7 linked regions of the Homo sapiens genome follow. The protein of the gene in region 1 purifies or fractionates together with the protein of each later gene. This does not show direct contact. Each region holds a gene or a part of one and is shown in the gene's direction. Other genes may lie near its edges.

The links.
Region 2: the proteins of AP1B1 (region 1) and BMP2K purify together in Homo sapiens (affinity purification with mass spectrometry; 2 studies listed by BioGRID and IntAct, with this or other methods). This does not show direct contact.
Region 3: the proteins of AP1B1 (region 1) and EPS15 purify together in Homo sapiens (affinity purification with mass spectrometry; 3 studies listed by BioGRID and IntAct, with this or other methods). This does not show direct contact.
Region 4: the proteins of AP1B1 (region 1) and AP1S3 purify together in Homo sapiens (affinity purification with mass spectrometry; 2 studies listed by BioGRID and IntAct, with this or other methods). This does not show direct contact.
Region 5: the proteins of AP1B1 (region 1) and AP1G2 fractionate together in Homo sapiens (co-fractionation; 3 studies listed by BioGRID and IntAct, with this or other methods). This does not show direct contact.
Region 6: the proteins of AP1B1 (region 1) and AAK1 purify together in Homo sapiens (affinity purification with mass spectrometry; 2 studies listed by BioGRID and IntAct, with this or other methods). This does not show direct contact.
Region 7: the proteins of AP1B1 (region 1) and NUMB purify together in Homo sapiens (co-immunoprecipitation; 2 studies listed by BioGRID and IntAct, with this or other methods). This does not show direct contact.

What each region holds. Positions count from the first base shown.
Region 1 is NC_000022.11:29,381,304-29,385,570, reverse strand, and holds part of AP1B1 (AP-1 complex subunit beta-1), read left to right. Parts: intron 1-4,267. UniProt on the Homo sapiens protein: Subunit of clathrin-associated adaptor protein complex 1 that plays a role in protein sorting in the late-Golgi/trans-Golgi network (TGN) and/or endosomes.
Region 2 is NC_000004.12:78,911,949-78,915,054, forward strand, and holds part of BMP2K (BMP-2-inducible protein kinase), read left to right. Parts: coding exon 1-85; 3' UTR 86-3,106. UniProt on the Homo sapiens protein: May be involved in osteoblast differentiation.
Region 3 is NC_000001.11:51,396,813-51,401,160, reverse strand, and holds part of EPS15 (epidermal growth factor receptor substrate 15), read left to right. Parts: intron 1-207; coding exon 208-243; intron 244-1,995; coding exon 1,996-2,129; intron 2,130-4,348. UniProt on the Homo sapiens protein: Involved in cell growth regulation. May be involved in the regulation of mitogenic signals and control of cell proliferation. Involved in the internalization of ligand-inducible receptors of the receptor tyrosine kinase (RTK) type, in particular EGFR.
Region 4 is NC_000002.12:223,830,649-223,834,996, reverse strand, and holds part of AP1S3 (AP-1 complex subunit sigma-3), read left to right. Parts: intron 1-4,348. UniProt on the Homo sapiens protein: Subunit of clathrin-associated adaptor protein complex 1 that plays a role in protein sorting in the late-Golgi/trans-Golgi network (TGN) and/or endosomes.
Region 5 is NC_000014.9:23,561,676-23,565,385, reverse strand, and holds part of AP1G2 (AP-1 complex subunit gamma-like 2), read left to right. Parts: intron 1-186; coding exon 187-267; intron 268-545; exon of another isoform or gene 546-659; intron 660-725; coding exon 726-824; intron 825-997; coding exon 998-1,053; intron 1,054-1,164; coding exon of another isoform or gene 1,165-1,222; exon of another isoform or gene 1,223-1,226; coding exon 1,227-1,340; exon of another isoform or gene 1,341-1,529; coding exon 1,530-1,670; intron 1,671-1,747; coding exon 1,748-1,802; intron 1,803-1,883; coding exon 1,884-2,006; intron 2,007-2,103; coding exon of another isoform or gene 2,104-2,181; exon of another isoform or gene 2,182-2,287; intron 2,288-2,792; coding exon 2,793-2,882; intron 2,883-2,970; coding exon 2,971-3,098; intron 3,099-3,278; coding exon of another isoform or gene 3,279-3,294; exon of another isoform or gene 3,295-3,309; intron 3,310-3,319; coding exon 3,320-3,424; intron 3,425-3,512; exon of another isoform or gene 3,513-3,710.
Region 6 is NC_000002.12:69,637,010-69,641,357, reverse strand, and holds part of AAK1 (AP2-associated protein kinase 1), read left to right. Parts: intron 1-4,348.
Region 7 is NC_000014.9:73,287,512-73,291,859, reverse strand, and holds part of NUMB (protein numb homolog), read left to right. Parts: intron 1-4,348. UniProt on the Homo sapiens protein: Regulates clathrin-mediated receptor endocytosis. Plays a role in the process of neurogenesis.

The sequences.
Region 1 (4,267 bases):
GTGGCTCCTAGTTGCCCTCGGGCTAAAACTCACATTCCTTAGCATGGCATTCAAGGCCCTTTGGACTCTGACCCCTGCCTAGCTCTCTTTTGTCATCTCTCCTGCTCCACACTCACCTTTTCCCAAGCTCCAGTCAACCTCAGCTACTTGCTACTTCTGCAAGCACCAACTCTTTTTCTTTTTTCGAGACAGGATCTTGGCTTGTTACCCAGACTGTAGTACAGTGGAGCTGTCATAGCTCACTGCAGGCTCCAACTCCTGGGCTTGAACGATCCTCCTGCCTCAGCCTCCCAAGTAGCTAGTACTACAGATGGGTGCCACTGTGCCTGGCAAATTGTTTTTATTTTTTGTAGAGATGGAGTCTTGCTATATTGCTCAGGCTGGTCTCAAACCCCTGGCCTCAAGCAGTCCTTCTGTCTGGGCCTCCCAAAGTGCTGGGATTACAGGCGTGAGCCACCACACCTGGCCTCCCAACTCTTTATACCTCTCTGTCTTTGCTTTGCACTCTTCCCTCTGCCTGAACACCATTTCCTGCTCTCCCAACCTTACCTGCCTAGCTGGAGTGCTACTTGGTTCTTCCCATCTGATCATCACCCCTAGGTCTGAGCTAGATGCCCCTCCTTGATGCCCTCTGGCAAGGGTCACAGTGGGTTGTGATTGTTTATTTGGCTCTCTTCTAAGTAAATAGCTCTTTTTTTTTTTCCAGACAGAGTCTCGCTTTTTCGCCCATGCTGGAGTGCAGTGGCGCGATCTTGGCTCACTGCAACCTCCGCCTCCCGGGTTCAAGCAATTCTCATGCCTTAGCCTCCAGAGTAGCTGGGATTACAGGCACCTGCCACCATGTTTGGCTAATTTTTGTATTTTTAGTAGAGATGGGGTTTCACCATGTTAGCCAGGCTGGTCTCGAACTCCTGACCTCAAGTGACCCGCCTGCCTCGGCCTCCCAAAGTGCTGGGATTACAGGTTTGAGCCACCGTGCCTGGCCAGTAAATAGCTTTTAATCCTTGACGAAGACCTGCCTTAACTACGTCTCCAGCACCTAGTGAGGTGTCTGGTACATAGTTGGTGCTCAGCAGGTGTTGAATGAGTGAATGAATGAATATTGCATTGAATTGTTAGGATTCCTTGACTCCTAAGGGGTTCAAAGCACTTTCTAGATTATCTCCTGTCCATCCTCATGTCACCTCATAGAGACAGGGAGAAATCTGATCAGTGCTGAGACTACTTTCAAACTACAGTTGGTACCACCAGACAGCCATCAGGGTGTTTCAGGGCTTCCAGAGACCTGGGAATCTGGTACGGAGCAGGGAAGTGGTAAACTCTCTCTCTCTCGGTAGTAGTAATAGTGGCTAACATTTATCAGGCATTTTGTGGGCCGGGCACTGCTAAGGGCTAGGTATGTATTGACTTGTTTTAGCCTCACAAACCCTTCAGGCATGTAACATTGTAGTTCCCATTTTACAGTTGTGCTGCAGTTGTGCCTGTTTGCTTTGTAGAACCTGGGAGAGCCCCTGTCCTACCTGCAATGGCTGCCTTCACCTACCCACTCCTTGTGTTTAGATTGTCCCCTCTTATATAGTGGAGCTGAGGAAGGACTTGGCTATGGTTCTACACTCCTACACCTCATGCTGTCTGGGTCTTTAGCCTTGGACTTGACCTCTGACCTCTGTCAGGAAGGGAGGCCTCTCCTAGTTGTGGTATGAGTGTGGCCTAACTCTGGGTTGACCCCACAAGGCCCAGAATTCATCAGTTACTGGGATGCCTTAGTCACTGATCCCCCAGGTTACCACCAATTACCACAGTCTACCCTGTGGACTCGGAGCTGGAAGGTGGTAGGTTTGAAAGTCAGGTCTCAAAAGCTTTTTTTTTTTTTTTTTTTTGAGACGGAGTCTGGAGTGCAGTGGCGTGATCTCGGCTCACTGCAAGCTCTGCCTCCCAGGTTCACGCCATTCTCCTGCTTCAGCCTCCTGAGTAGCTGGGATTACAGGCGCCCGCCACCACGCCCGGCTAATTTTTCTATTTTTAATAAAGACGGGGTTTCACCGTGTTAGCCAGGATGGTCTCGATCTCCTGACCTTGTGATCCGCCCACCTCAGCCTCCCAAAGTGCTGGGATTACAGGCGTGAGCCACCGCACCCGGCCCAGGTCTCAAAAGCTTTAAAACTGAACCTTCAGTGTTCATTTTTGGCATTTCAGTAGCTGAGTTCCATAGAGGAATAGACTTGGGTGGTAGATACTTTTTACCACACCCTCCTTACATTTAGGATCTTAAGCCTATTGGGAGCAGAATAACACAATTTCAGTAGAGCCAGCCTTGGGTCTGCTGCTGTGGTGGTCTTCATTGCCCGATCTCCGAGTATTGGGTGGCTGGCTGCTGGGACACTGAGGACAGAGACTTTCTAAGTCCAGTATTCATTCAGTATTTATCGAGGCCTGCTAATGCCTGGTGCTGGCCTATGCTGATAGGTCAACAGGCCAGATATGGCTTCAGGCTTCAGATAAGCCCTCTAGTTGCTTACTTCATTTTAATGGGAGAGAGAGACAAAGAAGTAGAGAAAAAAATGCAATGATTAGAAAAACCAATAAGCCACAAGGGAAACAAAAGGCATAGCAGCCAGAACTTATTAAAATATAGGTCAGATGTCAGGACTCCTCTGCTCAAAACCCTCCAGTGGCTCCAGCTCACTCAGTAAAAGCCAGAGACCTCACGCTTGATCATAAGGCCCCCTGCATTCTCCTGTGACTTCCTGACCCACTGTTTTCCTCATTGCTCACTCAGCCACATTCACTTCCCTTCTGTTCCTCAGACATGCCAGGCACATACTCACCTTTGCACTGGCGATCTCTTTTGCTTGGCAGGCTCTTTCGCAGACAGTGTCACCTGTCACCTTCTCAAGGAGGCCTTCTATGGCCACCCTAGTTAAATTTTAACTTCCCTTCCTCCCCTCTCCCCTCCCTATCCTCCTTCCCTCCTCTTTTTTGCCTCCATTGTGTTTATCACTATCTAAGATGTTATATATTTTACTCACTTATCTTGCTTACGGTCTCTTTCCCCCATTAGGACATAAACTCCATGTAGGGAAGGATTTTTGTCTGTTTCTTTCACTCCTGCATTCCCAACATGTAGAAGTGTTTCTGGTACACGAAAGATGCTCAGGAAATGTATGAATAAGAACACTGAAGGATGTGGACAGAGAAATACCTTCTTAAGGTTGTACATGCATGGCCAGGTGCCGTGGCTCATGCCTGTAATCCCAGCTACTTGGGAGGCTGAGGTGGGAGGATCATTTGAGGCCAGGAGTTCAAGACCAGCCTGGATAATTTAGCGAGACTCCACAAAAAACTTGAAAAGATTAGCTGGGCATGGCACACGCCTGTAGTCCCAGCTACTCAGGAGGCTGAAGCAGAATTGCTTGAGCCCAGTAGTTTGATGCTGCAGTGAGCTATGATCACACCCCTGCACTCTAGCCTGGGTGACAGAGCAAGACTATCTGTCTCTAGCAACAACAACAAAAAAGATAGTACATGTAGGAAAGGTATTTTTTTTTTGTTTCTTTTTTTAAGCATCAGAGGTATCACGCTGAAGGGAAGTTATCTTTGAAATGAGATCATCTAAGCTGAGATTTGAAGGATAAATTGGAGCAGTTAGGAGAGGATAATCCAAGCAGAAGGATCAGCAAGGGTAGAGATAGTGAAGAGTTGGCTGTTAGAGGAACAAAGAAGGCATGTGGGCCTGGAGGCAAGGACCTGGTACTTATATCCTGTGCCAGAGCCCCCCACCTTCTGCAGCTCTGTCACTCTGAGCTGATACCTATGGGAGCAGGTGAGAGTGACTTGGCCTCACTGAACGTTTCTCCCACTGGAGATGTTGCCACCTGATCTTCTACCCTTGCCATTTCTTCTCTCTCTCATAATTTATTCACTTAACTTCCATTTATTGGCTGTAAATGTGCTAGGGGTCTGGCATGTTCAATTTCAGTATAGTTAGAATAGCTTGACAATCAGAGCAGATGTATCTCTGATCCTGGATAACCCCGTGAATGGAACATGGAGAAGCTGCTCTAGCAGAGGTTGGTTTACAAAACATGAAATTTGCCCAAGAAGAGAGTTGAGCACTGGTCATTCAGCTACTTATTGAACACCTGTTTGCCAGGTACCAGCCTAGGAGTCAGGAATATGATAGTGAACAAAATGGACAAAATCCTTACCCCCATTTACATTAGGGAATTTATAGGGGGAGAAAGAATAGACAACGTAAGTATATTTT
Region 2 (3,106 bases), on another chromosome or scaffold:
AAGCATCACTCCACATCAGTCCCAACAGTCCCAACCAGTCGAATTAGACCCATTTGGTGCTGCTCCATTTCCTTCTAAACAGTAGATACTTCTGATGGATTCTCGGCATTAACTCCTGTTTCAAAAAAGTGTGAACAGTTTTATGAATTTGAAAGAAAATTTGGTAGCTCTTTATAGCATTCATTCTTAAAGATCAGTCAGAATAGGTGATTTCTAAATAAACCAAATAGAAGAATGAAGTATCTCTACAGGGTAGTAACTTGATTCCTCTTCAGGAGAAAAGGGAGCTAAATTGCAAGCTCTAACTAAGGGTTTCTGCTACTGACATCACAACACAGAAATGCAAGTGTGGTACTTCCAGTGAAAGCACATGGCACCTTTCTAGGTGTGTAGCCACTGAGAAGGGACAGTGAAACTGTTATTTTTGATATCAGAATGTCATTTTTATGTGCATATCCCTAAAATTAGGGTTATTTCTACATACACTAGTTACACTTGTGAATTTTTTTTAAGGTCTCTTTTAATTTCCAGACAGTTAAAAACAATCTAGTTATCTTAAAGCATTAGAAAGTTATTATCTGGAGAGTGCAGAGATTTCAGTCCATACACCTTTCTCCACAAAGCAGAGCCAGAAGTAACTGACTATTGTGCCTAAAACTCTGTTTCATTTTTAAAAACAAGTGCCATTAAAATGGAATATCTAATGATAAGCATATGAAATAATGTGTAATTAGCTCAATTTAACTATTCCACAACTTACATATTCCAAAACAATGTTATACATGATAAATATATATAATTTTTGTCAGTTAAAACAAATTAAAAAAATGGACTATCGTCGCACAGAAGCCTAGAACAAAAATATGAAGAGAAATATCTGACATTTGTAAAGAAATTATAAGAAGAAAAAAAGATACAGAACAGAAAACATTCACTACTTTAGAAACACTTTATGCATGGCTTCTTGCCCCAAACTTTTATTGTGATGGCCCTAATAAAGCAGATTATTGGAAAAATTGGAGGACAAGGGTTGTATAAAAATTTTATTTTATGAAGAAAATATGTAGCGGAAACTGAATTTTCAAGACATTTACAATGTGAAATCATGTTGCATTTAACAATGTACTTTATTAGCAACTTCACCAAATATTCCCCAAGTCATAAGCAACAATTATTTTTATTAGGTTTTGGGGGGTGGAGTAGTTTTAATAAAGTGCACAGAATGGTGACACCCACAAAGCCTTATATAAAGGCAGGATTCATGCATCCTGCTGCAAGTACCTCTGCACTAATATACCAGATCCTAAAATGCATATAAGGTGGACTAGCATCTTAATTCTGCTAGTTGATTGTGTCTTTACTGAAAAGAACCCAGCTACCAATTTGCCTTTTTTTACACCACAAATCCTAATTAGAAACTTGAGGTTTTATAGAAATCATTTAATGATAGAGATTACATATGTGAATTAATGTGAATATAGTATCTGTGCTTCCTGTGTCTATGACTATTTTAAGATATAATTGTGCTGCGCTATCAGATTAACATTTGGAAGTTTCTAGAACAGTTAATGCTATTTACAGAAAGGAGTAGAAACTCATCAACTGGCACTCTCTTTGATTTTTATATTTTAAATTAACTCTCTTCGATCTCAAAGTATATTTTACGAGTAATTTTATTAGGAATCTCTTATAGTGCCCCAATGGGATAAGCTATTTGCCTATTTTCACAGTTCTGAACTTGGAAAGAAGCAAAGTATATGTAACTAAACCACATATTTGTCTTTTTATTGCTTTTTCCCTTCTTTTATATGCTAAATCAAATATAGATTTGTGGATAGGGAAGCAATATGTGAATCACAATGTAGCAGAGGCAGACCAAGCATTACATTATTATTTAGAGCTGGACTGCACCAATTACTTGTCCTCGTGCCAAAGGCAAATATGTTTGCACCTTTTTTTTTTTTTCTGATTCTCAGGTTGATTAATACTGCTAATGCAAATGCTCAAGTAGATGTTTAAAAACTTTACAAAATAGATTCAAGTGATACTTTCTTTTAAAAGTGAAGAGTTGATGATTACACATAGTAAATTCATGAACTACAGTAGGTTTGTATCAAACAATTTTTTTTAATGAAAATCTGTTGAGGTGTACACAATATGCTTCTTGATTGTATTAGTCCTTGGTCTCTGCTAGACCTCATGAGTTTCATCATTTAGAAAAGGGGTAGAGGATGAACTAATGTCTCCTTCAGATGTAAACATGAAATACCTAGAGTTTTACTTGCTTTTCAATACACTGAATAATTTTAAATGATTCTGACACTGATGTAGACCCTTTGACTTATAAATTCTGAGGAAACAACTGACAGCATAAAATATTTACATTCTTATAACACAGCACAGTGACTTTCTTCTTTCAAGATTGTAGCTCAGAGAAAAGATACAGGATTCAATTGGGGGTTCAATAGGATAGAAATGGAGAGATTCCTTTGTGTTGTAGTAGAGGCATTTTCCTAAGGAGTATAGATTTATACTTTGCATTTTCATTCATCATCCCCCAGAATCATGGTCAAGGTGTAGGTCACTCCACACAGCTGATGCTCAGGTTATTCCCTTGTGAGAATTATGAGAATAAAGCTCCCAAGATATGTGAAAGTGCTTAACACAGTACCTGGCACACAGCACTCAATAAAAGTTTGGCTCTATTATGGGATGGTTCAATTCTGGTTTAAGGAAGGAAGAAAGGTTATTATATATGTACCACTAAGCAAATATATATATATATATATATTTGGGGTTTTTTTTCCCTAATATTATTTGGGTGTCCCCTGTGCTTCTTTAGGATGTAGTTATAACTAAACCTGTTATACTTGAACATCACTAAGAGAAGTAAATTATTATGAAGCTAGCAAAAATCTTGAGGCCAAAGTTGTTTCTTAACAGCTTTAATAATGCTTGTTGATTTTGAATAATCCTTTAAAAAGTGGACCATTTGCTTATTTTAATATCACGTCAGTAAAATGTTAGTATTAAAAAGATCAGCTTTTTATGGCATTGAAGAATGTATCTGCTAAGACACAAAAATTGCATGGTAAGTATAATAGGT
Region 3 (4,348 bases), on another chromosome or scaffold:
TCCATCCGTAACCTCAACTTGTGATCAAGGTAAGTATAGTTGGCTGTATATTTCATAAGGTCAATGACATTCCTTATTTTATCTACTGTGAAGTGAAGTTATTGAAATAAACTTTGCTTTGCTTTTGTTTGAAAGTTACTCTTTAAGTAGTGGTGTCACCACAGTAAATATTGTTATTTGGATTTCTTTGTGTTTATTTTATCACAGGTGATCCTTTCAAGGATGATCCTTTTGGAAAAATCGGTCAGTATCTTATTGAGTTTCATCTTAGCTTTCATTCATTTCTGCTTAATAATAAGCTTATGTTATTTAGGTCTGAAACTGAAGCCCCAGTAAGATGCTCTATGTGCCTGGCATTTTCAGAAAGAGAGTAGTAAATTCTTTTGATTTTGCTTAATGAATTGTTGCTTTACTTTTACTTCTTCTTTTTTTTTTTTTTTTTTTTTTTGGTGTTTTTTGTTTTTGAGACAGGGTCTTATTCTGTCACCCAGGCTGGAATGCAGTGGTGTGATCATGGCTCACTGCAGCCTTGACTTCCTGGGCTCAAGCAATCCTCCTGCCTCAGCCTCCTGAGTACCTAGGTCTACAGGCTCATGCCAGCATACTTGACTGATTTTTTTTTATTTTTTGTAGAGACAGGGTCTCACTGTGTTGCCGAGGTTGGTCTCGAACTCCTGGGCTCAAGCAGTCCTCCTGCCTCAGCCTCCCAAAGTGCTGCGATTACAGACAGGTGTGAGCGACTGTGCCCGATAGCTTTACTTTTTTAAAAATGACATTAGTGTTTAGACTTTGGTGCTTTAAATATTTATTCTGATTCCTCCTTACTAACTAAAGGTTTGGTGAGCATAATGATCTATACTGCTTCAGGGTTTAGAATGTAATTTTGTTTTCCTAAGATTATAGCCCACACGTGTGATTAGAGGCAGAGAATCTTGAAGAATTACTAAAACATCAGGCTTTTTGAGATATTCTTTTTCTGGGAATTTTCATTAGAATAATGCAAATCTTGTTTACCATTTAGTTTTGCATCCCAAACCTGTTCTAAACTATTGGCTGTTAGCTTTGAGCTCAGAGAGAAAAATACATTTAGAAGTTTTTATTGTGTTTTCTTTAGTTACGGTAGCGTAGAATAAGGGGACTTAAAATTGGATCCCTTGAAATTATATGTTAATTTTAAAAATAAGTTTATTAGGTGGAAGGTTCTGTATCTTTTATCAAAATTGCAAAGGAGTCTGTGAAATAAAAAGTACTCAGCTTAGATTCTACAGTATTTCAAACTGTCTTTTTGGATTTTTTTTTTGAGACAGTCTTGCTCTGTTGCCCAGGCTAGAGTACAAGTAGTGCGGTCTTGACTCACTGCAACCTCCGCCTCCCATGCTCAAGCTATTATTCTCATGCCTCAGCCTCCCGAATAGCCAGGATTACGGGCGCGCACCACCACGCCTGGCTAATTTTTGTATTTTTAGTAGAGACAGGGTTTCACTGTGTTAGCCAGGCCGGTCTTAAACTCCTGAGCTCAAGTCATCCGTCTACCTCAACCTCCCAAAGTGCTGGAATTACAGGTGTGAGCCACTGCACCTGGCCCAAACTGTCTTTTTGTTTGTTTGTTTTTGAGACAGGGTCTCACTGTCACCCAGGCTGGAGTGCAGTGGCAGATCTTTGCTCACTGCAGCCTCTGCCTCACAGGTTCAAGTGAGTCTCCCACCTCAGCCTCCCGAGTAGCTGGGACTATAGGTGCGCACCACCATGCCTGGCTAATTTTTGTGTTTTTTAGTAGAGAGGAGGTTTTGACATGTTGGGCAGGCTGGTCTTGAACTCCTGACCTCAAGTGATCTGCCTGTCTCAGCCTCCCAAAGTGGTGGGAATGCAGACGTGAGCCACTGCACCTGGCCCCAGACTGTCTTTTAATTAAGGCACTGATCATACCTTCAAGTGATGGGAAATTTAGTGCAATAATTTTTTTTTGTCTCTTATATTCGTGCCTTATTTTTTTAGATCCATTTGGTGGTGATCCTTTCAAAGGTTCAGATCCATTTGCATCAGACTGTTTCTTCAGGCAATCTACTGATCCTTTTGCCACTTCAAGCACTGACCCTTTCAGTGCAGCCAACAATAGCAGTATTACATCGGTAAGTGGGAGAATTAAAAACTGTTAAGTTAAATGGATAATAAGTGTCCTAAGCAAGTTTCTTGAAATACATAGTGATGAAAGAACCCTCATTTAGATTACTTCTAATGGACCATATAAGAATTTCAGTCTCATCCCAATTCATTTAGTTTTTGGTTCAGACTGGTATTTCATAGTTTGATTACCCACTGGAATTAACTGGAATGACTGAACGGAGTCCAAAAGTGATGTTCATCTTTCAAGAGACTAAATCTTATCCTATTGAGGATACTAAAAATGATTGGAAATTTATAAGCCAATCTTACATAAAACTTTTCTGAAATGTTTGGTATATTATTGAAATAATGAAAATTAAAAGAATTTTAGAAAAATAAAATCGTTTATGTTATTTCATAGACACATCTGGAATGTTAATTCTGCAAAGTACAAATTCTCACTAAATGTCAAGCTCTCTTGAGAATGTACATACCTACAGCAATCACTGTTTAATAACCACATGCCTGATCCAGGTACTGGTGTGTGCTTTACATTCATTGTTTCTAATCTTCACATCAATTTTGCAAAGTAGGTGTTGATATCCCTATTTTAAAAATGAGGACACTGGGACTTAGAAAAATTAACATGTTTAAGGTCCTATAGCTAGTTGCTGTTTTATCTGGAGGCTTTAAAAAAATCTTCATGGCTGGGCGCGGTGGCTCACGCCTGTAATCCCAGCACTTTGGGAGGCTGAGGTGGGCGGATCACGAGGTCAGGAGATCGAGACCATCCTGGCTAACACGGTGAAAACTCGTCTCTACTAAAAATACAAAAAATTAGCCAGGCGCGGTGGTGGGTGCCTATAGTCCCAGCTACTCAGGAGGCTGAGGCAGGAGAATGGCGTGAACCCGGGAGGCGGAGCTTGCAGTGAGCCGAGATCGCGCCACTGCACTCCAGCCTGGGTGACAGAGCGAGACTCCGTCTCAAAAAAAAAAAAAAAAATCTTCATCTTGTGGATATTTAGAAATACTCAAAGGAGAATAATGTAATGAAATATTTTAACAAGCTTCCATGCATCCATTACCCAATTTCAATAGTTAGGAATGGTTTTGCAGGTTTTTGGTTTTGCTTTTTAATTTGTATTTTGAGACTTCGTTTTTGAGACCACAGTTTCATGTCTGTAGGTAAACTGAACCTATAAAGGACCAGTTAACTGAGAAGCATTTGAAGCAAAAAATTTGTCTTCTAGTACTATTAGATTAAGAATATTTCCTTTAAAATGTAATTGATTATTTTAAAGATAATAGGTTTTGTATTATTGAAAGTTGCTTCTTTTTTGTATTCAGTAAAGAGCTGCTTGGCTAAGAACTGGTGTTTTCCATTGAATAAAAACTGGACAGATACCTTCGTGACTGAATATTTTTCGTTTCCCTGGGCTGCTGGATACTCTGTTTTCCTATAGCACTTAGTTTGCAATGTGGACCCATTTGCCAAATTCTTCTAAAATTGCTGCTACTGGAATTCTTCTCCTCTCACCTTCTTATTCTAGCCTCTCATTCTCCTATCATCTAAAGAGCAAGAAAGCTAAATTAGCTCTTCTAATTTAAAAATGAATACATTCCTCTTGTCCTGTCCCCCATGAGATTTTTCTACCATTTGTTTTACTGACTTTTATTCCCAGTTTTCTAAAGGAATATTGTCCTTGCTTTACAGCTTGTAATTTCACCATTCAAAACAAAAAACCAGATTGGCAATATAATAATAGCTGCAGTTTATCTAATTTCCTCTGTGTGCCAGGGATGGTGCCAAGCTCTTTATATGCATTGTCTCATTTACTTTTCACAGTAATCCTATGAGGTTTACGTAGGTTAAGTTGAGGCCAGGTGTGGTGGCTCCCACCTCTAATTCCAGCACTTCAGGAGGCCAAGGCAGGAGGATCACTTGAGGCAAGTAGTTCACAACCAGCCTGGGCAACAAAGTGAGACACTGTCTCTACAAAAAAATTAAAATATTAGAGGTGTAATAGCATGCACCTGTAATCCCAGCTACTCGAGAGACTGAGGTGGTAGGATTGTGTGAGCTCAGGAAGTCAAGGCAGCAGTGAGCCATGATTGTACCACAGCACTCCAGCTTGGGTGACAGAGTGAGATCTTGTCTCAATTTAAAAAAAAAAAAAGATAGATTAAGTTGGTAGTAAGTTAGTAACTGGTAGAACTTGACTCAAGCCAAAATCTAAGATTTTCA
Region 4 (4,348 bases), on another chromosome or scaffold:
TTTTCTTGTGTCTACATAAGCTGAGATAGTACAACAGATTGAACACAGATGCAGATAGGAAAGTCCAACTGTCTTTGATAAGCCCAGACATTAAGGAGATTTGCAAAATTGTAAAACAGTGCCATGCTTTTCACTAATTTTTTTTTTGCTTTGGAAAAATATTGTTATTGGTCATAAAAATGTTATTTATGTTTAATGTGTAATAGGTTTACTATTGTTTTTTCTTTTTATTTATTTATTTTTGAGACAGGGTCTCTGTGTCGCCCAAGCTGAGTGCAGTGGTGTGATCACAGCTCACAGCAGCCTCAACCTCCTAGGCTCCAGCAACCCTCCTACCTCAGCTTCTTGAGTAGCTGGGACTGTAGGCATGTCCCACCATGCCCAGCTATTTATTTATTTATTTATTTTGAGACAAGGCTTGTTCTATCACCCAGAGTAGAGTGCAGTAGCATGAACATGGCTTACTGCAGCCTCAACCCAGTGGACTCAAGGCATCCTCCTACCTCAGCCTTCCATGTAGCTGGGACCACAGGTGTGTGCCATCATGCCCAGGTAATTTTTTGATTTTTGTATAAATGAGGTCTTACTTTGTTGCCTAGGCTGGTCTTGAACTCCTGAACTCATGTAATATTCCCACCTTGTCCTCCCAAAGTGCTGAGATTATAGGCATGAACAATTGGGCCCAGTGGAATTTTTTACTTTTTGTAGAAATGAAGCCTACCTATGTTGCCCAAGTCGTATTATTTTAAAATATGTTAATATCTATTTTTTCATTTTAATTTCAAATACAATAAATATCAGTGGATATAACCCACATAAACAAAAAGGTCTTTGGGATTGGCAGGCGGATCACCTGAAGTCAGGAATTTGAGACCAGCCTGATCAACATGGAGAAACACTGTCTCTACTAAAAATACAAAATTAGCTGGGTGTGGTGGCGCATGCCTATAATCCCAGCTACTTGGGAGGCTGAGGCAGGAGAATCGCTTGAACCCGTGAGGTGGAGGTTGTGGTGAGCCAAGATCGTGCCATTGCACTCCAGCCTGGGCAACAAGAACAAAACTCCATCTCAAATAAATAAATAAATAAATAAATAAATAAATAAATAAATAAAAAGAGTGTAAAGGCATCCAAAAAGTTTCATAATCACTGTCCCGGAGTTTAACAGGTACCATAAGTGAATGCGTGTGAAGGCGCTTCAAACAGCTTTGCCATTGTAAATGCTCAGTAACCATCACCTCTCCTCTGTTATTACCTTCAAGTTGTAAGAAAGAATTGGCGGCCCTCGCTAGTGCCCAGCTGCTCTGAGACCTTTGTTGAGGCTCACTGTGTAACTCCCTGTCTTTCCTGCTGCTTCATTCCTGACTTTTGCTGACTTTTATGCTAGGAAACTGGTAGATGCTTACTGGCAGATCTAGGCACCTAGTACTTTACACACAGAAAATGGTTCTTGATTCCATGGTGCCAGTGACCCTGGTTTCTGGCACAGAGATTTCATATCTGGTGCATGTTGGGACTGTGTTTGTATCTGGATCACACTGTTTGAAGCAACTGTGTACTCCATCTCACCTTTTAGAAATCTCTACCTTGGAAAACAGTGTTAGGGCTATTGCACTTCAGGAATCCCACGAGCTGAGCCCAGTGTGTTTAAAAAGGCTTATGGGGCAGAATGTACTGTTGAATGGTTGGCAATGAAGGAGGATTATGTTGTTTATGTATGTATGTATGTATGTATGTATGTATGTATGTATGTATTTTGCCTTTAACAAGATAGCTGTGGGGATGTATACAGTGACATTTGAAATGCTTTGGGGGTACTTTTAATAAAAGCACAAGTGGACTTTGATGTATGTAGTCCATGTGCTTCTGAAAAGTTGAGGTGACACAAAACCACATTGTGAACAAAACAGTAGAGCCACCCATTGAAAGAAACTCAAATGTTGATCCCTTTGGAAACATGAATAACCGTCTTTTTGTGTTGCAAATTCCGTTCTCATAATGTATGTTATTTATGTAAAGTAGGATAGATTTATGCTAAAAAAAAATCAAGGATTTTTTTTGGGTGTACGATTTAAAATCTGACTTGAGAGAATTTACCAAACAGAACTGGAAAGCCATTTCTTATTCAGAAGATATTTAAGTTTGAAATAGTAGGAGTACACCCTTCTCCTAAAAAAAAAAAAAAAAAAGAAAAAAGAAAAAAAATTCCTTTGTTCATTTTAATCTCAGGGAGTTGTTGAGGGTGAGGGTGGAAAAACCGAACTATGAACCTGTAGGTCCTGCCACGCCCCCTTCCCCTTCTGTATCAATTTTATGTTCTGAAGCTTGAATGAATTGTAATAAGCATGTAATGATTTTGGCAATTTAAGTTCCAGTTTGAGGGTGAAGCGGTCTATTACACTAATGAGTGCTTTCCTCCTCGGAGACTTGGTCTAGGCTGCTGGCCAGCAGTTAGTGTAAGATCGAGGGCTTTGGGATCAGGGGAGAAATGACCCTTTGTGGTGTTCAGTTGTCCCAAGAGGGCTCTCCTCCACTGGCCCTTCCCACAGGTCTCCCAAAAACACCAGTGAGACTTGTATTTACTCCTCACCAGGATTGTTACTACCGAGTTTCTATCACTCGTTTTGTTTGTTTGTTTGTTTGTGGTGAGTATTGTCAGCTGCTGATAACTTTTGTGTGGCATTTTGCCAACAACAGCTGTAAGGAAGCAGCACACTGTGTATTTGCTGAACGGTGTTGTCAATGTCTGCCCTTTTGGGTCCCGTGAATTATTTCATTTTAAGACATAATGATAAAATTACTCCCCTTTCCAACACACACACACACACACACACACACACACACACACACACACACACACAGAGAGAAAACTCCTTTAATAATCCCCAGAATAAGTCCTTTTTTTGATTTTTTTTTTTTTGAGACGGAGTCTTACTCTGTCTCCCAGGCTGGAGTGCAGTGGCACGATCTCTGCTCACTGCAAGCGCTGCCTCCCGGGTTCACGCCATTCTCCTGCCTCAGCCTCCTGAGTAGCTGGGACTACAGGCTCCCGCCACCATGCCCAGCTAATTTTTTTGTATTTTTAATGGAGATGGGGTTTCACCGTGTTAGCCAGGATGGTCTTGATCTCCTGACCTCGTGATCTGCCCGCCTCAGCCTCCCAAAGTGCTGGGATTACAGGCATGAGCCACCGTGCCCGGCCAACAGAACAAGTACTTCTTGATGTCTTCATGAATTGTCCTTTTGATATTGTTTTGTTGTTACGATAGCCAGTGTTTCTCCCAGAGACCTGAAACTTCACTGTGGTTCTGTGGTTCATTTCTTCCCTGGGGCCTGTCTTTTTCTCTCTCAGAGTCTCCCTTTCTGGTATACCTAGTTTTCCCCGATACTTTCTCTGTTTAACCTGAAGTATCCAGGAAAACTCCCTTTAAACCATTTGAAGCTCCCCCATAATCTATGACATGAAAGAATGTACACAAATGTCAGAGGCAAATGCTCCTAAATTCTCTCAGTGGCATATGAAACTATCCAGCCAGCACCCTGACTAAGGAAATGTATTTCTTGACCGGGCACGGTGGCTCACGCCTGTAATCTTAACACTTTGGGAGGCCAAGGTGTGTGGATTGCTTGAGTCTGGAAGTTCGAGACCAGCCCAGGCAACATGGCGAAACCCCATCTCTAGAAAAAATACAGAAAGTATTAGCTGGGCGTGGTAGTGCACCCATGTAGTCCCAGCTATTTGAGAGGCTGAGATGAGAGGATCACCTGAGCCCAGGAAGTCAAGGCTGCAGTGAGCCATGATTGTGCCACTGCACTCCAGCCTTGGTGACAGAGTGAGATCCTATCTCCAAAAGAGAAAGGGGCCAGGGTTGGAGGCTCATGCCAGCACTTTGGGAGGCTGAGGAGGGAGGATTGCTTGAGCCCAGGAGTTTGAGACCAGTGAGACTCAGTCTCTATTAAAAAGAAAAAAAAATGTATTTCTTGTATCGCTGCTAGCAATAAGGTAAATTAAAAATCTTAACAATGAAAAGGGGATACTGAAAATCATTCAAGTTAGAAATAGAATGTTATCGACAATCATGAGGAAACTGGCCTCTGCCAACATCCCTCTTCTAAAAACTTTCCTACAGGCATCTCTGGGCTCTGAAATTCCTGGCTCTCAGTAGCTTCTGAAACTTTAGTCTTTCAGTGCGATGGGGCATGGACCTAGTACAGTCAGTTAAGAATAAGTGCACAAGAGATTCTGTATTTAATGTCCTTGTTGGATCTTCTCTAACAGGATTTTCTGGGCTGGTAAGAAATGATTGGTGTGGGTTGAAGCTCAGTGGACACTGAAATGCTACAGGAG
Region 5 (3,710 bases), on another chromosome or scaffold:
TCCTAAACTCCCCTGGCCTCACACACCTCTGTTCCCCTCCTAGGACCAAGGGACCTGTGGAGGTGAGGAGGTGGGGGAAGGCTCTAGGGAGCGAGCCAGACCCTCACATGTTGGAGTTTTCTCCTCAGCCCCACGACTCCTTATCCTATGAACCCCTCCAACTTTCCATTTTCAACCCAACCTCAGGTCCAGATACTTCGTCTGCTTCGGATCCTGGGCCGGAACCACGAGGAGAGCAGTGAGACCATGAATGACTTGCTGGCCCAGGTGGGGCCTGGGAGGGCACTGGTTAGCTGTGTTGCTTGGAGACCCCATCAGCCCTGGGTGCCCCTCACATGACTCGTCACTGTGCAGTGGCCGTGTAATTGCCTCTCCATCTCCTCTAGACAGTGAACTCCATGAAGAAGGGACACAGTCTGTCTTAGTGCTATTGCCCCAGTGCCCAGGCTGGCCCTGGCACATAGTAGAGCCTCAGGGAACTTTGTTGGATGGTTGAAGGATGGACAGATAACATGTTGGAGTCCTTCAAGAATCCTGAGGATTACCTGGGCTTGTTGGCATGTGCCTGTAGTCCCAGCCACTCAGGAGGCTGAGGCAGGAGGATCATCAGAGCCTGGGAGGTCAAGGCTGCAGTGAGCTTTGGGCGACAGAGTGAGACCCTGTATCAAAAAAAGGAGACCTGAGGAGGGCCTTGAGCAGATACATCTCCTCTCTCATCCACTCAGGTGGCCACTAACACGGACACCAGCCGAAATGCCGGAAATGCGGTCCTGTTTGAGACAGTACTCACCATCATGGATATCCGCTCTGCAGCTGGCCTACGGGTATCACCCCTTATGCCTCTCCCACTACGGCCCCGCCCACCACCTCACCCACACAGGTCCTGCTTGCTGGTTTCTCCCTCCTAGCCCCATCATCTTGCGCCAATGTGTTCCCAGTCCTCAATGGCTGAGCAGGTTGCTCCTTTCCGACTGACCCCAACTTCTGCCTCTCATAGGTTCTAGCTGTCAACATTCTTGGTCGCTTCCTACTCAACAGTGACAGGAACATTAGGTAATAGTCCCAACTGTCTACCTAGGCTGTGCCACTGATCCCCTGGCCCTCTGCCCTCCTTCCTCCAGAGCCTCCTGATCCATTTCTCTCTTATCTTATCCCTATACCCAGGACAGGACGGGGAGTGGGGGCTGATGGCCATGGTATGATAGAACCTCCCCCATCCTGACCAGGTATGTAGCCCTGACATCACTGCTTCGACTGGTGCAGTCTGATCACAGTGCTGTGCAGCGGCATCGGCCCACTGTGGTGGAATGTCTACGGGAAACTGATGCCTCCCTCAGCCGGTGAGCAGTGATAGAGGGGACAGGAGGGCAGGGCAGAGGTTCCCAGTGCCCTGTGGCCAAGACTCGAGCCAGTTTAGAGCAGCTGGAGTAAGGGGACTAAGGGGGACAGGTCCCTGGGGAAGCAGAGGGCCTGAGGCATGGACCAGGATGACCTGGGCTACCTGCATGGAAACCTCTTTCTCCTGCCAGGAGAGCCCTGGAACTAAGCCTGGCTCTGGTAAATAGCTCCAATGTGCGAGCCATGATGCAAGAGCTGCAGGCCTTTCTGGAGTCCTGCCCTCCTGACCTACGGGCTGACTGTGCCTCAGGCATCCTGCTGGCTGCAGAGAGGTGAGGTGCCCAGGAGTCGAAGAGGGTAGAATCTGGGGAGCGTCAGTACCAGGACTGATGAGCCATATATCCCCTAGGTTTGCTCCAACCAAACGCTGGCACATAGACACCATCCTGCATGTGCTGACAACGGTGAGGCAGGGGCCAGTCAGAGAGCTGGGCAGAAGTGGTCAAGATTCACCACACTGACTTGGCCATGCCCACACCTTCCAGGCGGGCACCCATGTGCGGGATGATGCAGTGGCCAACCTGACCCAGCTGATTGGGGGGGCCCAGGAGCTACATGCCTACTCTGTGCGCCGCCTCTACAATGCCCTGGCAGAAGACATTTCCCAGGTACCATTCCCACCTACCTAGGCCCAGGGCTGCCCAACCACTCCCTTGCCCATCCTGGGCCACCTCCTCCCTACTAGATTCCAATTTTTCTCTCAAGGTCACAGCTGCTTACACAGTGCAGAAGACATCTGAGCACAGAGCCCTGTTTTTAAGAACATCTGGGCTTTTGTCCTGACTCTGGTACCTCCTGGTTATGTAACTACAGATGACTAACTTCCCTTATGCTCCATGTACCCTGACTGCCTCTTAGAGCTGCCTTGAGATTAAAGCTCTTGTGTTTATGAGGTTTTATTATTACCTTGAATGCTGAATGAATTAACAGATGCCAGCCAGTATCTATAGCCCCCTTTTCCATCTTAATTAAATAGGGTGGGCAGAAAGCATCATCCACCCCTTCCACAAGGGAGGGACCCTCTCACATTTCCATCCTGTTTGGTTAGGCCATGTAGTTCTGATGCTTGGCCACCAGAGGGCAGTGGGAGCCAGGTAACAAACTTCCCTTTCCCCACTCCTCCAACCCCCCACCATCTCTGCACTGCCTAAAGGGATATTGCCAGGTCTGGAAGTGAGGAGGGGACCTCAGACACTGGCCCAGCAGTGTTTCTTTCTTTCTCTCTCTCTCTTTTTTTTTTTAAAATAGAGATGGGGGGGGTCTCGCTTTGTTGCCCAGGCTGGTCTTGAACTCCTGGTCTCAAGCAATCCTCCCGCCTCAGCCTCCCAATGCGCTGGGATTACAGGCTTGAGCCACCATGCCTGGCCAGCCCAGCAGTTTCTTATCCCATGTAGCAACCACTGGTGCAGGTGGCAGCCTGGTGCATTGGGGAGTATGGGGACCTCCTGCTGGCAGGGAACTGCGAGGAGATTGAGCCCCTTCAGGTGAGACCTCATTGGGGGTACACTGAGGAGGGACTTGTCAGGGGGACAGGACTTGCACCAGGGCCACTAACTGTATCCATGTCTGAAGGTGGACGAAGAGGAAGTGCTGGCATTGCTGGAAAAGGTGCTGCAGTCCCACATGTCCCTGCCAGCCACTCGAGGATATGCCCTCACAGCCCTCATGAAGCTCAGCACTCGCCTCTGTGGGGACAACAAGTAAGAAGGGGTCCCAGCCCCTTGAGAGATGGCCTGTCACTGGGTCCACCCATTTTTGAGTTTCTTTCCAGGCATACATGCCCAGCCCTCCCTACCCCCTAGCCCTTAGGTTCTTGTTTTTGAGCCAAATCTGGGTATTTCCCTGCTCCGTGGGCCTTTCCTTCTTGCCACATCCTGCAGTGGCACACTGCCATAGCCACTTACATACTACACTGGCCCAGCCGCATCCGCCAGGTGGTGTCCATCTACGGGAGCTGCTTGGACGTGGAGCTGCAGCAGCGGGCTGTGGAGTATGACACACTCTTCCGGAAATACGACCACATGAGGTGTGTCCAGCACTGTGCTGCAGCATGGGACCCAAACCCCTGCCCTCTCCCAAATGCCCTTTTCTAGGTACAAGGGCCTCATCCTCACCTGTGTTCTTCCATATCCACGGTGAGAGCTTCCCACCCACTGTTAATTGAAGCTAAGCTGGCTTCCAACCCTCCTTGTTCATCTGAAAATCAGCAACAACATGTCATTTTAGGAAATCAGAAGGGTACTTCTGAGCCACCATGTGCCCAGGGCTCCATATTCCTAGTCCTCATCCTAGATGCCTCTTGTGAAAGGCCC
Region 6 (4,348 bases), on another chromosome or scaffold:
CCAAAGCCCTTAACTGCAGTGGGGTGGAGAAACAGTGAAAAGGAGAGTGTGTCAGAGAGAAATCAGGAGAAACGAAGGGCCACAGAACACTTTCCTCCCCTCTGAATGGCCTCTGCTGACCTTATAGCCCACGAGCGTTTTGTTCAGCTAGGATGTTGTCTCATCACGGATGATGCTGCCCTAAGCGGTGCATGTTCTCCAAGTGTGAGAGAAGTGATAGGGAAAAGAAAAGGCAAAATTGGTCTTTGTTACCTAGGCTGCCTTCCTCTTCTCTGGGATTCATCTTTGAGAACTGCGCATCACGTATTGTGATATTTTTACACAGAATTTAGGACTTGTAGCTCTGCATTTATTCATTCAACAGTTTATGGAGTTGCCTGTGAAGTGCCAGGTGCTGTGCTAGGCTCTGGGGGTATACTGTTAAACTAGATGCTAGCTTTTACCAACTGCTTTAAGAGATGGAAAATAGCCAGTTATAGTGGATTGGTAAATGCCATCATAGAGATAAACTTAGGGTGCAGTGGCCCCCAGTTTTAGGGAGCCCAGGATTTCTGAAGGAAGTGACTGAAGAGTGAGTAGGAGTTAGTGTGGTGGCACCATGGGCAAAGACAGAGTAGCGAGAGAGAATGTCACGTAAAACTGGGTCTGGCTATGCGCCCTTTTTGTGTTCTTTGGCTTAAGTTGAGTTTGAATTTGTGGCTCTTAGAAGTATGTAGATATGTAGGAGCCAGTATACAAAGTATTTATGTAGCACCTACCAAGTCCAAAGACCCTATGAAGTTCTGAGATGGATGAGGGAGGTCTATAGTGTGATTGACATCTGCCTTTAAGGATCTGCCAATGAATTTGGGAAGATGAGGCATACATTCACACATACAGTAGCATGGTTACCAGCACTGTCTGTAGAGTCAGACAGATCTAGGTTCAAATTCTGGATCTGTTCTTTACTAGCTGTGGAACTGTAGGCAAGACATTCCAAACCACTCTTGAATCTCTGTTTCCCTGTGGCAGTGGTTCTCAAAGTGGGGCATACTTATCACCTGCGAGCTTGTTGGAAATGGAGATTCTCAGGCCTCACTCTGTAGGCTGTGGGTGTGGGGCTTAATAAGTTCCTGGAGAGATTCTGACGCAAGGTCAAGTTTGAGAACCACTGCTTAATGGGCTGGTCATGAAGATTAAATGAGGCAATATATATAATTAACATTTTCAGGTGTTCAATAAATGGTAGCCATTACTTACCAGCAACGTTATACATCATATGTATATATGTGGGGGGGGAGAGAGAGAGAGAGAGAGAGAGAGAGTGTGTGTGTGTGTGTGTGTGTGTGTGTGTGTGTGTGTGTTAAAGGGGAGTGGGAGCAATGTGAAAGCTAGTTGAGCTGCAGCAATCTGAAGCAATTCCTTTCCCCCATTGTTAGGGGACAGAGCCAGATGTTCTTTGCAGAGTCCTCACCAGCTCCTTAAAGGCTTAACAGACGTTTTGGGTAGCCATGCTCCTTCCCTGGACTCTCTTCTCTGTGAGTCCCCGAGTGCTGACTTATCTACAGTTCTAGCCAGAGTTGTTTAAGGACCACAGGAGTTGTACCCTGTGTGCCCAGAGCGGTGGCTAGGCAGTTTAGGGAGGAGTGGTGTGAGAGGCTTCAAAACACAGACCAGATTACCACCACATTCCGCTGATGATCTCTTTTTCTCTAGCGTGGGTATTGGTCTGTGCTTTTTCATAAGGAATTGCAAGAACCCCAAGGAGCAGGTGCTGGGTAAGACAAAAAGATGTCGCACTGCCATACCTCCCCTGGTAGCATCAGCCTTCCTGGCCTGGTTTCACTAACTAGTCCAGCAGGGGCTGTTTGGGGGAAGTGAAGGCTTTAAGTTATGAGTTTAGAGGAATATGGCTATTTCTAGGCTGGGTGCCAGGGAGAATATTTTCTTTCTAGCTTTCTCAGCAAAGATGCCATGATGAGAAGCTAAATCATGTCTAAGTTAATGGGCATATGATATCAAGGGAAGATTTGGTTTAAGCTTCCAGAATGAGCTCAATGGGAAAATTGGAGCAATGTTCAAAGAAGGATTGAGAAGCTGTGCTTTTATCATACTTCCTTAGCTATACGAGGACTTATATCTAAGCTTTAAACAATAAATGTTTATTTATTACTGTGTTGAAGACAACATTCTGGAACTATAAGGTGGACTAGATGGCTCCTCAGAACAGCTTTCTAATTTATATTCAAGGAATCCAGGTCCAAGGCTGATGAGAAGTACCAAATGTCCACATCAGTAAACTTTGATAATTTCTCCTACCTACAGAGCAAACTAGTAAGGCTTAAAAATGTGTGTGAAATCACCAAAAATTCCATTAAAGGCACATAATATGTTGGTGGTATCAATATGATACACGTACGTGCCTCTTTGTGGCAGGCACTGTATTAGGTTCCAGAGATCCTAAGATGAATGGGACACAGGCCTGACTCTTAACAGAGCTCAACACCTGAGATAAGTGTCCAGCACTTAAGCGTGGCCTTTGACATACATACCTTAGATGGTAAAAGATGTTATGATAAAGAGCCTGGGGGTGAGAGTTCATAGGTGACATGAAGTTTGAACAGGAATAGAAATTGCCCAGCAGATGTTCCAGATGGGGGTTACTCAGGACCTCTCAGGCTGAGAGAATAGTATAGGCAAAGTGGTGAAACAGCATGATAAATTTTGAGAATACTGACTAGTTTAGTGTTACCATTTTCATCAGTACACATTTCCTCCCCAGAATCAAGGAAAGAAGGACAGAGGACACGGAGTGGTAGAATGAAATTCTTTAAGTTGCTCCCTGGAGGTGCTTGCTACTCACTTTCTTCAGTGGCCCTGGGCCTTTTGAAAGACTGATGAATAGGTACCAAGAATGCACGGCTCCCCTCCTGTGCCTCAGCCCCGTGCCAATTGTGGGGAAAGGGAGCAGCGAGTGTCTGGGGAAAGAGTGGTCCCAGAAGGTTTGATAAGAGGCTAGAAGCTTAAGCAAAAGCAGGCAGGGAAGGGAAATGACCAGTGTTACCGAAAGGTATGAACAGGGGAGATATTGAAGGTGTTTGACCAGAGCAGAAGGTACATTGGAGAGAAAAGGAAGGACTAATTTTATGGAGAATCTTGAGTGCCAGGCAGAGAGATTTAGTTATAAGCACCTGAGACCTTCTCTTGACGCAAACACCAATTTGATCCCTCCCACTTCAGATGTCTTTGCCTGCTGGGAAGTCTGGTTTTTTAGAGGCAACTGCAGATTTTCAGGGGGTGGTTTGTGAATGGTGTCTTCTTCCTGGCTTTGGGCATGATGACGGTTGTAGCTTTGCTAAATATAGCCAAATCTAGAATTCAGAAATGAAGTCCAGAATAAGCAATTGCCATGGTCAAACTCTTTCTTTCAGTCTTTCTAACAAAGTAAAGCTCATTTAATAACAAATAATGATGAAGAGAGAGCAGCAGTTTCACGTGACTTTTGAGTGGGAGGGTATGAGGGGAGACATACACTTGTACCCTGGTAGCTAAAACGCCATGTAGAGTACACAAGAAAGGTTTGATAAATATTAACAAAACACACAAAAAATATTACTGCATCAGAGCCGTCATTTTAACTTGCAATATTTGAATGTTGACGCTTCGGAAAGGGGACTAGTACCACCTTCATCTTGCACCCTTTCAAGGATGCATGCCTTCTGAGCCTACTTATGAGGTAACTGTGACATCCGCATCTGAAAGAGAAAAAAATGATAATAATAGAAACGTATTGTCTATTAAAGTAGCATCTAGCACTGTGAGCTAGCAGAGACTTGCCTCCGGTCTATTTTATGGAGCCATATTTTGGTGTGGTGGAAAGAACACTGCATTATGAATTGGGAGATCAAGGTTTGTCAGTTCATTCACTCCCTTATTCAGTAAATGTTACTGAGCATTCATTATGTGCCAGGCATCATGCGGAGATAAATGAGACATGGCTGTGCCTTGAGGACCTCACAGTCATAGGATTTCAGATATGTGAGCAAATAGCTGCAGATGCTGCGCTGGAGTCATGTAAAAGAGCTGGGGAACAGACCCAAGGCAACAATTTTGTGGGTTGGGGAGTAGTCAGGGAAAGCTAAAGAAAGGTGACATTTGAGGTGTGTCTTCAAAAATGAGAACTTATTGCTAGATGGACAAGGTAGAAGAACATTCTAGGCAGAGAGAATAACATGGCCAAAGACACAAAAGCAGAAAAATAACTGCTTACTGGGGAGCTGTATGTTTTGAGATAGCGATAATCTACTAGTGGCCCAGGGCTGTGCTGTTCAATAAAGTAGCCCACTAGCCACATATGGCTATTTAAATT
Region 7 (4,348 bases), on another chromosome or scaffold:
ACAAAAAAATTAGCTGGGCGTGGTGGTGCATGCCTGTAGTCCCAGCTACTCGGGAGGCTGAGGCAGAAGAATCGCTTGAACCCAGGAGGTAGAGGTTGCAGTGAGCTGAGATTTGTGCCACTGACTCCATCCTGGGTGACAGAGCAAGACTCTGGCCAAAAAAAAAAGAAAAAAGAAATACTGGCCGGGCATGGTGGCTCACACCTGTAATCCCAGCACTTTGGGAGGCCGAGGTAGGCAGATCACCTGAGGTCAAGAGTTCAAGACCAGTCTGGCCAACATGGTGAAACCCTGTCTCTACTAAAAATGCAAAAGTTAGCCAGGTGTGGTGGCGCATGCCTGTGATCCCAGCTACTTGGGAGACTGACTCAGGAGAATCGCTTGAACTCGGAGGCAGAGGTTGCAGTGAGCCAAGATTGCACCACTGCACTCCAGCCTGGACGACAGTAAGACTCCGTCTCAAAAATAAAACAAAAATAGGCCAGGCACGGTGGCTCACGCCTGTAATCCTAGCACTTTGGGAGGTTGAGGTGGGCAGATCACTTGAGGTCAGGAGTTGGAGACCAGCCTGGCCAACATGATGAAACCCTGTCTCTACTAAAAATACAAAAATTAGCCGGCTGTGGTGGCGGGTGCTTGTAATCCCAGTTATTCAGGAGGCTGAGGCACGAGAATCGCTTGAACCCAGGAGGCAGAGGTTGCAGTGAGTCAAGATTGCACCACTGCACTGCAGCCTAGGTGACAAAGCAAGACTCCATCTCAAAAAAAAAAAACAAAAAACAAAAACTAAACAGAAATACTAAGTTACGGTAGAATGAACAACGCTAGAAATTGTTGCATGATAGAAGTTTTGTTTTAAAATAGAGAATAATTTCATTCTTTATGTAAATTACCCAGCATTTTAACATGAAAGACAAGTCTCTTTTAAATGACAATGATTTTACTATAAGTTGAGCATTTCAAATCCGAAAATCTGAAATGCTCCAAAATTCTAAACTTTTTGAGCACCGACATGACACTCAACAGAAATACTCATTGGAGCATTTTGGATTTTGGCTTTTCGGATTTGGGATGTCAGCTTGTTAAGTATAATGCAAATATTCCAAAATCTGAAAAAAATCTAAAATCAGAAACACTTCTGGTCCCAAGCATTTCAGAAAAGAGATACTCAAACTGTATGTACAGCAAGTGTCGAGACAGAATAGGCAGTATAGCCATTCGTGAAGGTTACAGGTCAGTAAAGCTCTTGCCAACGTTTAATCTGGAAGATAAGTAGTGGCCATGGTCTAAAAATTGACCAAAATTGTTTAAAGATCTTTGAGACATTGGTGTAAACAAATGCTAAGAGCTCAGGCTCTGAGTCAGATATGGGTTTCAGTTCTGATTCTGGTTCTTACTAGCTGTGGGATTTGGGGCAAGTTACTTAACATTCTCTGTCTTGGTATACACTTCTATAAATGGAGAAAGTGGTTGTGAATACTAAATTGGATAAAGATTATAAGCACACTTAGCATAGGTTCTGGGCCACATTACTCCAAAAATTTTAGCGAATATTGTGTAAGCTGTCCTTCATTGGTTTGACACAGGTGCTTTGAAATGAGTTGAAGTAACAAAACTGTGCTTTTGTCTTCTGTTTCTCAGACCCTAAGTAAACCACAAACTGGGTATATTTTGCTATCACTACACTTTAAAAATCTGGAGTTCAAGAGTTTCCAGATAATAACTTAAAAACCATTTTGTTGTCAAATAGTGGCCCGGCAGCCTGTTTGAATCTCCTAGGCCAATAGTTCTACTGTATCAAAATCACCTGGAGGACTTGTTTTAAAACATAGATTGCTGGGCCCCATCTCCAGCGTTTTTCATTCAGTGAGTTTGGGGTTGGTACTTAAGAATTTGCACTTAAATGTTCCCAGATGATGCTGTTGGTTGGGGATGAGGTCACTCTTCAACAACTTCTGCCCTAGGCCTAGGAGAAAGAATAAGCAAGCTTCCTTGACCTGTAGCTCTGTCCTTATAATAGACCTGCGTTCAAATGCAAACACATTCTAAGAATCTTTCAGTACTCCTGTTTCATGCTTTAACATCTGGCCTAATGTCATCCTACTGGGAAGTTAGATGGAAACTCATGTGGATTCATAGAGTAATTCTATCAGTCTTTAAATAAGTAGTCAAAAGTTTTTTTAAAAAGTTTAAAAATTTTTAAAAAGTAGTCAAAGGTAGTAAAATCTTAGGGACATAAAGCATTTTAAACCTTACCTGTCCTTATGATAACTAATACTGTCATGCAAAATCCAGTGAGACGACTTGTTCAGAGCCGTGTGTAGGAGCAGCTGCCTACGTGATGTGATTTTGAGAACACCACAAAAGACTTCCTGTTCCCAAATATCTCTTCTCACTGTGAATGATGCCAACAATTATTGTACCATCTCTAGCTTTTTTATTCCACAATTAGCAAAATGGTCTAAAATACAGATAACCCTGCTAAAAATCATCCATTGAATTTATTAAATTGACTCTGGGTAATCCAGTGTATCTATATAAAGCAGTGTTTTGTTTATATACGTCCTCCACTCCTCCCATACACAAACCAGTTTTATCTGCTTAATTCTTTTATAAGTAGACAGTGTGGATGAAAACATGCTTTCACTTTTGCCTGTGTTTGGTTGGGAGGTAGAGTTGGGAATTAGAGCTAGAGGAAGATAGGAAGGGTATGGGGGAAAACCTAAAAGCACGGAGGGCCATAAATGAGGAGGGTTGCTTAGAGGGGGGATTCAGAAAGGGGAGACAGCAAAGCTTTTGTCTCATTGTTAGTTTTGTTTGTTTGTTTGTTTTTTGAGACAGGGTCTCATTATGTCACCCAGGCTGGAGTGCAGTGGCACAATTAGAGCTTACTGTAGGCTTAAGTGATCCTCCCACCTCCCAAGTAGGACCACAGACACACACCACCACCACACTCGACTAATTTTTTCTTTTTCTTTTTTTTTAATTATTATTTTTTTTGAGACGGAGTTTTGCTCTTGTTGCCCAGGCTGGAGTGCAATGGCACGATCGTGGCTTACTGCAACCTCCACCTCCTGGGTTCAAGTGATTCTCCTGCCTCAGCCTCCCGAGTAGCTGGGATTACAGGCATGCGCCATCATGCCTGGCTAATTTTGTATTTTTAGTAGAGACAGGGTTTCTCCATGTTGGTCAGGCTGGTCTTGAACTCCTGACCTCAGGTGATCCGCCCACCTCAGCCTCCCAAAGTGCTGGGATTATAGGCATGAGCCACTGTGCCCGGCCTTTATTTTGATTTTTATTTATTTTTTGAGACGGAGTTTTGCTCTTGTTGCCCAGGCTGGAGTGCAATGGCGCCATCTCAGCTCACAGCAACCTCTACTTCCCGACTTCAAGCAATTCTCCTGTCTCAGCCTCTCAAGTAGCTGGGATTACAGGCACCCGCCACCACATCCGGCTAATTTTTGTATTTTTAGTAGAGACGGGGTTTCGCCACGTTGGGCAGGCTGGTCTCGAGCTCCTGACCTCATGATCCACCCATCTCAGCCTCCCAAAGTGCTGGGATTACAGGTGTGAGCCATCGCACCTGGCCTAATTTTTTTTATTATTTTGGTAGAGACAGAGTCTCACTGTGTTATCCAGGCTGGTCTCAAACTCCTGGGCTCAAGCAATTTGCCCATCTCAGCCTCCCAAAGTGCTGGGATTACAGATGTGAGCCACCATGCCCAGCCTCATTCCTTTTTAATCACTGGAATTATATTTGTTTATCAGAAGTTTTAAGTTTGCACCTTTTTTTCCTAGACATATTAACAGTGCATTAAGCTCCTGAAATTTGCCTTGCCTTTCCAGTAGTTTCTTAGAAGTGGCTGGTAAATATTCCCACTGCTTCCCCAAAGGGCAACTAGAAGCTTGCATGTCAAGGCTTGAAACCTTGCATAGAGTCTTCTAAGCTGTTGGCCAGGGCTGACATGACAGAGCCTAAGTGATAAAGAGTTCTCCATGGCTGCTTACAAAAGCACAGGTTGCTGGTTATCACTTTACCCCAAGGCTTGTAACAGTGAATTGAACCATCATAAGCACTACCTTAGAAAATTTATTCATTTAAATTAATATGGCATACTAATCTATTAAAACAATTTTAAGCTGGAATTTGCAACATCTTGCTTTCATAAAAACAGACATTTGGGCCGAGTGTGGTGGCTCATGCCTGTAATCCCAGCACTTTGGGAGGCTGAATTGGGTAGACCACTTGAGGCCAGGAGTTGGAGACCAGCCTGCCCAACATAGCAAAACCCCATCTCTACTAAAAATACAAAAATTAGCCAGGTGTGGTGGTGCGTGATTGTAGTCC